Linked DNA regions of Homo sapiens. The protein of the gene in region 2 purifies or fractionates together with the protein of the main gene of each other region. This does not show direct contact. Each region holds a gene or a part of one and is shown on either strand. Other genes may lie near its edges. The genes, in order: SHTN1 and OGFR.

What was found.
Region 1: the proteins of OGFR (region 2) and SHTN1 fractionate together in Homo sapiens (co-fractionation; one large-scale study listed by BioGRID). This does not show direct contact.

What each region holds. Positions count from the first base shown.
Region 1 is NC_000010.11:117,002,329-117,006,725, forward strand, and holds the start of SHTN1 (shootin-1), read right to left. Parts: upstream 2,860-4,397; 5' UTR 2,752-2,859; coding exon 2,694-2,751; intron 1-2,693. UniProt on the Homo sapiens protein: Involved in the generation of internal asymmetric signals required for neuronal polarization and neurite outgrowth.
Region 2 is NC_000020.11:62,807,822-62,811,463, reverse strand, and holds part of OGFR (opioid growth factor receptor), read right to left. Parts: intron 3,218-3,642; coding exon 3,139-3,217; intron 1,880-3,138; coding exon 1,801-1,879; intron 966-1,800; coding exon 899-965; intron 3-898; coding exon 1-2. UniProt on the Homo sapiens protein: Receptor for opioid growth factor (OGF), also known as Met-enkephalin. Seems to be involved in growth regulation.

The DNA.
Region 1 (4,397 bases), on a different chromosome or scaffold from region 2:
CCTAGTGCCTACCACATGGACCTGACATATGGTGGTACTTGATAAGTATTTGTTGAAGGAATGAATAAATATGTTTACTCAGCATTATTAAGGGAAAATAACATATTTGATAAATAGTGGTTCTTCTTGCTCACACTAAATAGGGGTAGTGGAATTATCACTCAGAATATTAACATTGTGAGTAAAAAGGTAGTAACAGGTAGTAAAAATTACTATTTTCAAAAATAAACCATGCAACCATCAGCTTACAAAATTGATCATAGTATGTACTGTTAAATGCTCAAAGACCCAGTTACCTGTTCTTCCAAATCCCTAGCTTCCCAATTAGTTCTACAGGTCAAACAGTAACTGAACACTTTTGAAGTAAATTGTTTCCACAGTCTGTGATCCAATGACAAGCAAACTACCTGGTTTTGAAATGTATAAAAATCACACTGTGGGCTGAAAAAATCCCAACACCTTTGTAACTAGACTCACTATCCCCAAAAGTGTACCTTTTAAGAAACACAACTTTGAATATCTAACTGTTCTATTACCTTTCATATGCACTTAATCAAGGAAATATATCCTCTAAAAATACCAATGCCAAGGATTTGTTTATTTTCCAATACAATGCAATAGGAGAAAGAGCCACAAATATAGAAATCCTTTTTGTCAGGCCTCAAACCCAACATAGGAATGGAGAATGTGTTCCGAAATCAAATATAAGCAATTTGCAGATTATCTACATTGTTAATCGACCCTTGATTATACAAGAAATGAAAGGGAAAATTTTTTTATGTTTATCATTATTCGAAAACTGACCAACCATAAGAAGATCTGATATCCACTGACAGATATTACCTATAATGAAAGCTCCACAAATCTAGAATATGAATCAAGTTTTAATGTTTTGGGTTGGGCGAAGGTGTATTAAATATAAAATACCAGTCAGTAGAATCCAGTCCCTCGCTAAAACACTTGAGAAACTTCAGATAAAGGCATTCTGTCCACCCACTAAATTCACTGATGCTTGTGACTTTATGACCTCAGGCTAATCTAGGATGCCAGGTAAAGGTGCTGGGAAGGCCAAAGAGACTAACATTTATCCAGCACTTTCTAGATGCTGGATATCACAGAAGAATGTGTTATGTCCATTTCAGAGGTTAAATAATTTCCCCAGGGTCACACAGTAAACAGTAATGTTGAAATTTGTTTGCCAGAGTGTGGCTTCAGAGGAATCCGGGAGCACTTCCCAACGGTGTCTGTGGTTTTACGCAACAACAGGTAAGAGTACTGGACAGGACCTCAGAAAGTCCTCCAGTTTCACCCTCGCCTTTAGTCAGGTCGGCCTTGATTGACCAGAAGATCCACGGAAGGAAAGAGACTCCTCCAAGTTCACAGAGCAGGTGAGCTGGGCCAAGAGAAGTGAAAGAGCTGCAACTAAATACCAGGTTTTGCCACAGAGCAGGGATCCTTCCATTACATGGTCTTGTCAGCAAGACATTCAGAAAAGTACATGTTCCTACACATTTTTACTTCCTTTAAATCTGTATGGTTCCTCCCTTTATTTCTTTATTATTTATTATTATTATTTTTTTTTGGAGATGGAGTTTCGTTCTTGTTGCCCAGGCTGGAGTGCAACGGCGCCATCTTGGCTCACCGCAACCTCCGCCTCCTGGCGATTCTCCTGCCTCAGCCTCCCGGGTAGCTGGGATTACAGGCATGCACCACCACGCCCGGCTAATTTTGTATTTTTAGTAGAGATAGGGGTTCTCCATGTTGGTTAGGCTGGTCTCGAACTCCTGACCTTAGGTGATCCACCTGCCTCGGCCTCCCAAATTGCTGAGATTACAGGCGTGAGCCACCGCACCCGGCTGGTTCCTCCCTGTCTTGACCCACATTCGCAGACCACCCTTTGGTCAGGGTAATAATGATAAGTGTTTAAATGTGATAGGTTAGCATTTGGTTGTTGATCTGGTTTGGTTCAGAAGTGTGGTAACTGATGAAAAAAATGATTGACTGAAGCAGGTCTTTATTAAAGGATAATCCCCAGTTACCAAGCAGTACAGAAATGCGTGCGCATGGCCTGGCTCTCCTTCGCCCAGCGTCAACCCTGTTAATTCTGAAAGCTCAACACTGGCAGGATGTTGACCTTGCTGACTAATAAACTGCTAAAATTGAGAAGTGATTAAAAAAAAAATTATGGCCTGAAAATCCCAGCTGGGCAAGGAAAGAGGAACTAGACCGAATCCAAACGAAAAGCTGGGAAGGGTGTGAAACAGCCCTACAGGCCACCCAGCGCCAACAAATGTGTAAGGGTGGGGCCAAGCTAGCTGAGCCGCCCAAAGCAGCCAAAATATCCTGCCCCACCCGCTTCTCCGGCAAGGAAGGTGGCACTGTGCAACCTCGTCCGCACTGAATCCTCGTCCCTTCCCCCAGCCCCCGATCGCCAGCAAACGCAACCAGCGGGCAGCGGGTCTCGAGCTGCGGGGCCTGACTAGCCCCGACACTCCGCGTTATCCTCGGTCCAGAGCTTTCCCAGGCGCGCCGGCCACGGAGGACGCTTCTCTGCGGGTGACGGAGCTACTGCGGTGACCACGGCGGCCGCCACGTCTCCCGCCCGGCTTCCAACTGCCCTGGCCCCAGCGCCCTGGGGCCGTCCCCGCCCACGGGCCGCGGCTGCCCACACCTGGCGCCCGCGTGCTGCCTACCTTGCTCCTTCAGACTGGTAATGAGCTGCAGCTGCTTCTCTTCGTCCGAGCTGTTCATTTTGGCGGGTGGGGCCGGGAATAAAAGGGAAAGAGGGAGCGGCGCGGGGCACACAGGAGGAGGGGGAAGAAAAAGCAAGATGCCGGTGGCTTGCGGCTCCACTACCCGGAAGTTGGATCCGCTCCCGCTCCTCCTCCTCCTGGCGCGGAGCGCGCGAGTGAGATCATCCCCACGCACCTACTCGGCGGCTGCGGCCGCTTCACCTGCAGGCGGGGCGGGGCGGGCCCAGCAGTCCCGTTCAGGGGGTGGAGGAACGAGGGCGGGTCGGCAGCCGCTATGCCAGCCTGTGGCTGCCGGCGCGGCAGGACGCGCTGGTGGGAGGGGGGGCGGCCCTGCGTGGGGTCGCTCCGCACCCTTTTCTCCGCCTCCACCTCCCGGACTCAGGGACGCGAGTTCAGAGAAAACCGGCTGTGGGTTCGCAGCGTGTGTGGGAACTCCACTTTGGACGCTTCCCGGGGGTCGCTCCCAAAGAACCACAGAGGTAGAGCGGGACGCAATGAGCCATGAACGCCTGGGCTTCTTCCCTAGTTTTCCCGCAGTAGACTCTGGGGGCGCGGTTGCAAAACCTAGCTGCCCACAGGGGCGGGCCCAGGGTGGTACATTTTGCACCTTGAAGAGGAGACAAGGATCGAATCAGGCCGCCCAGCTACTTAAATGACCATGCCGTGAGTGAAGGAGGGCCCTGGCTAGCTTTCCCCCATCGCACCAGGTTTGCCAGGTGGTCAGAACGTGGACCCTGCTGCACGTGGATGGTGGGGCCTGGAGGGCCCTTGCAGATCATCTGGTTGGTGGCGGGATGACCTTCCCTTTAGAGAGGGTGCCACTGCAGTCCGAATGCCGAAGGTCACGCAGCCCCCGGGCAGCAGAGGCTGGCAGTTAAGCCAAGCGTTTGTCCCAGTTCACTGCCCTCTGAACTATTTGAACTCATGTCTGTGTTAGACCATGCCCAGGAGAGAAGTGGCAGGTCTGCATTGTTTCAAAGGTGCTTCTCCCCAACCCCTAGTTGCGAGCTAACCTTTGGTCAAGTCTCCTGCATCTTTGAACTTCATCTGAAGAATAGGAAGAATAGTGATACCTACTCTCAAGGAAGAGTTGTAAGGATTTAATAGAGGAAGATTAACAAAACACCAAGTCCAGAATTTATAATGCAGTTTTTTTTTGTTTTTTTTTTGTTTTTTTGTTTTTAATAAAGATTACAGGTCTGTGGCCGGGCACAGTGGCTCACGCCTGTAATCCCAGCACTTTGGGAGGCCAAGGCGGGCAGATCACGAGGTCAGGAGATCGAGACCATCCTGGCTAACACGGTGAAACCCCGTCTCTACTAAAAATACAAAAAATTAGCCGGGCGTGGTGGCAGGCGCCTGTAGTCCCACCTACTCGGGAAGCTGAGGCAGGAGAATGGCGTGAACCCGGGAGGCGGAGCTTGCAGTGAGCCGAGATCGCGCCACTGCACTCCAGCCTGGGTGACAGAGTGAGACTCCGTCTCAAAAAAAAAAAAAAAAAAAAATTACAGGTCTGTGAGAAAGGGGTTGTGGTTGCTGACTATAAGCTGAAGGTTGCAGTTCTTTTACACTGATCATTAAGCATGGGAGATAAGTCCAAACTGAATTAGACTTATTGCACAGCTTGGTTTTTCTCACTACCTC
Region 2 (3,642 bases):
ACCTGGAAAAGACCCCCTTGGAGAGCTCAGGCACCATCCCTGAAGCCCCGGTTCCTGAGTGTGGGGGTGGCCGTGGGTCCCGACTCACTCAGAGGCCTGGACTAGACAGACAGACAGACAGACATTTATTTAGAGACAGAGTCTTGCTCTGTTGCCCAGGCTGGAGTGCAATGGTGTGACCTCAAGTCACTGCAACCTCTGCCTCCCGAGTAGCTGGGATTACAGTTGCCTGCCACCACACCTGGCTAATTTTTTTCTATTTTTAGTAGAAACGGGGTTTTGTCACGTTGGCCAGGCTGGTCTCAAACTCCTGACCTCAGGTGATCCACCCGCCTCAGCCTCTCAAAGTGCTGGGATTACAAACGTGAGCCACGGCACCTAGCCTGGACTCAGACTTTTAGGGTAAAGTGACAAGAGACACACTCATGCCTCCATCTCTCCTCTGAGCTGCTCCGAGCTCTCACCAGGGCCTGAGGCTGCCGCCCTCCCCTGAGAGGAAGTCGCTGGCCATGGGAAAGTGCCAGGAGGGGCCCCTCGGCTCTCTAAGTCCCTGCATCCCTCAGGGGCAGCTTCCACACTTGGGTGACCCCACTCCAGCCTAAACCAGTGGTGAGAAAGGCAGGTCCCGCCACTCCGGGTCTCTCAGGGGCTCAGCCCCAGACTCCCGCATGGGGACAAACAGCCTCGGAAATTGAGTTTCTCTAGATGCCTGGTGGGGTGAGGACCACTGGGGAGGGAAGGTCATCATACTGGAGGCTCTTTCGGCCCTTCTGCCTTCCAAGGGACCCCTGAGGGGGCACCAAATGCCTACTGCCAGAGGCGACCCCGTCTCTGCAGCGGCGTGGCTTGCCCAGGCCTCCCCATCTTCCCCTCCAGTCACAGCCAAGGCCTGGCTCACCTCGACCTCCCTGAGCGTGAGGGGCTTGGCATGCCAGTTCACTCCTGGTTCTCGCAGAGGAAACAGCCTGCAGGAGAAGAGATGCTCAGGCAAGGGATTAGGAGAGCCGCTTCCAGACCTTGGGCAGGTGCTCGCTGTGTAGCCCGGGGCAGTTCCAATCCCCTCTGGGTTCCCAGGCTCAACTCTAGGAGGGAGTGGCTAGGTGGAGGAGCGAGGGTGGGAGAGCTCAGGTGAGCGTGCAAGGGCCCAGGACAGGAGGTGTGTGGTGCGTAAGTCACAGCCTGCATGCTCAGCAGGACTGGGGAGGTGACTCAGGCAGCGAGGGGCCCTGCAGCCATCCAGCCCGGGCGGACAGGGCCTTCCTTTCTACTCCTCACTCTTCCCTCTCTTGTGTTGTCACTCATGACACGTCACACACCAGCAGAGGCTCCCTGTGGACGCCCAGCGAGCTGTCCCCAAAGCAGGGCATGCTGTTTCCGGGGCCACATTGTGGGTCCCCAAGACGCCTGCCACAAGTCTCATCCCAGCACTACGCCAGGACCCTGCCCCAGCTGAGTCCGAGACGGGGGCCGCCCCTTGAGGCTCACTGAGGCCTCCTGGCACTAAGGCTGCCCCTCTGGCAGGCAGTGCCTGCCCCCTCTCCTGTTTCAGGGAGCTTGTGTGCAGCCCTTCCTGTCTCCCTGGTCACCAAGAGCCCACAGATTGGGGACAGACCTGAGCCTTCCCTCAGCGGCCCTTGCATGTCCAGTAATGTCCATCCGTGTAATGTGGACACCAGCTTCCAGGAAGGGCAGGGAGTGCTCAGTCCGTGCCAGGAAGCAGCGTCGGGAGGGCTCCTGCCTGGGAGGGCCCTCCCCCTGTGGCCTCGCCAACCCCCCATCCCCCCATCCTCCCCAACTCACCACTGGATGTAGGAGTGATTGTCCTCAAGGAGGTCATAGTTGTCCGTCCAGTTCTGAAGAATGTCCTCAATGAAACAGCCTGGGAGCCCCATGGGGACAAGTCAGCTGTGGCAGCCACCCTGCCCGTGCTCAGGAGGACGGGGTGTGGGTGGGGGACATAAGGAGAGAGTGCTGCCAGCAGCTTCCCCAAGCTATTCCTCGCCCTCATCTCCTGAGGCTCTTCAGGGTGCTAGGCTCAGTGGGGCTGCCCATCCCTCCTCCGATGCACAGCCCTTGCCCTGCTGCCATCTGTGACCTGGACCCTTGTTGCTGGCTGGCGGCAAACCCCACTGAGAGCCCGGAAGGTCCCTCTGGGGGAACCACTGGTCCTCGACCAGGACCTGTCTGTACAGGAGGGGGCCTCAGTGCCTCCTGCAAAAGCGTGGCCCGTCAGCCACAGAAATCTGTCCTCAAACACAGCCCCCAGCTGAACCCAGTCCCATGATGTGGCAGGCACAGTCTCCTGAGATGGGGGCCTGACAGTGTTTTGTGCAGCCACCCAGTCTCTGTTTCACGTTGCAGCCCGGCACGTGCATAAACAGGTGTGGGCACGTGCCCGTGAAGCTTTATTGACACTGAAATTTTAATTTCTTATAATATCAAAGTAATAGAACACTGTTCTTTTTTTTTTTTTTTTTTTTTTTTTTTTTGAGACAGAGTCTCATTCTGTTGCCCAGGCTGGAGGGCAGTGGCGAGATCTCGGCTCACTGCAACCTCCACCTCCCAAGTTCAAGCGATTCTCCTGCCTCAGCCTCCTGAGTAGCTGGGACTACAGGCGCACGCTACCACACCTGGCTAATTTTTTTTGTATTTTTAGTAGAGACAGGGTTTCACCATATTGGCCAGGCTGGTCTCGAACTCATGACTTTGTGATCCACCCGCCTTGGCCTCCCAAAGTGCTGGGATTACAAGCGTGAGCCACCAGGCCCGGCCTCTACTTTAATTTTTTGCAACCATTTAAAAATATAAAAGCTATCCTTAGCTCGTTGGTTTACATGTGGCTTTCATGAGGTCGTGCAGGAGTTCAGTAGTTTTGATAGAGACTGTGTGGCCTGAAAAGCTGCAGATATTCAGTCTCTGGCTCTTTACAGAGATAGCCCACCCCGACCCAAACACCACTGCGGAGATCCCAAGCCGGGGATCCTGGAGTCCCTCTGGCCGCCTCCAGGGGGCACTGTGGGGCTATTTGAAAGCCGTGGCCCTGGTAATCGCCGGGTACATCCCAAACCAGGGCCCAGTGGACCACCCCTGCCAGGCAAGGATGGAAGCGCCGGCTGCCAGTGGTTGTGAGGCACCTACCGTTGGGCAGGAAGCGGATCTCATTTCTGTAGAAACTCAGGTTTGGCGTGTCCCCATTGCAGTCTCGTTCCACCAGATCCTGAAGAGCCAGAGAAAGGGGACAGCAGGGATCCATCAGACACAAGCTGCCCTGGGGCCCTCCGTGTCTTTCGGGGAGGCGCATCTGCAAACCTCCAGGCTGGCCCAATACCCCAAGAGCCCGCCTGGCTCCTCACTCTGCAGGTGGGGGCCATTCAGAGGACAGCAGCTGCCTCCAAGCCCCAGGGACCCCCCTTCCCCATTTCGCCAGCCAGGCCAGGCCTGGCAGGTCCCCTCCTCAGCACCCTGAAGGCAGCACAGGGGTTTCCGTGATTCAGGGGTGTGGAGGGTAATGGCTGAGGACAACCTGCAGGAGACAGGGCTGGCATGGGGGTGGGGTGCTGTGTGGGCGGTATCACGGACCCCACACGTGTGCATCACGAGGCTGGCACTATGGCCATGTTTGCAAGGCGACGGTGTGCTGAA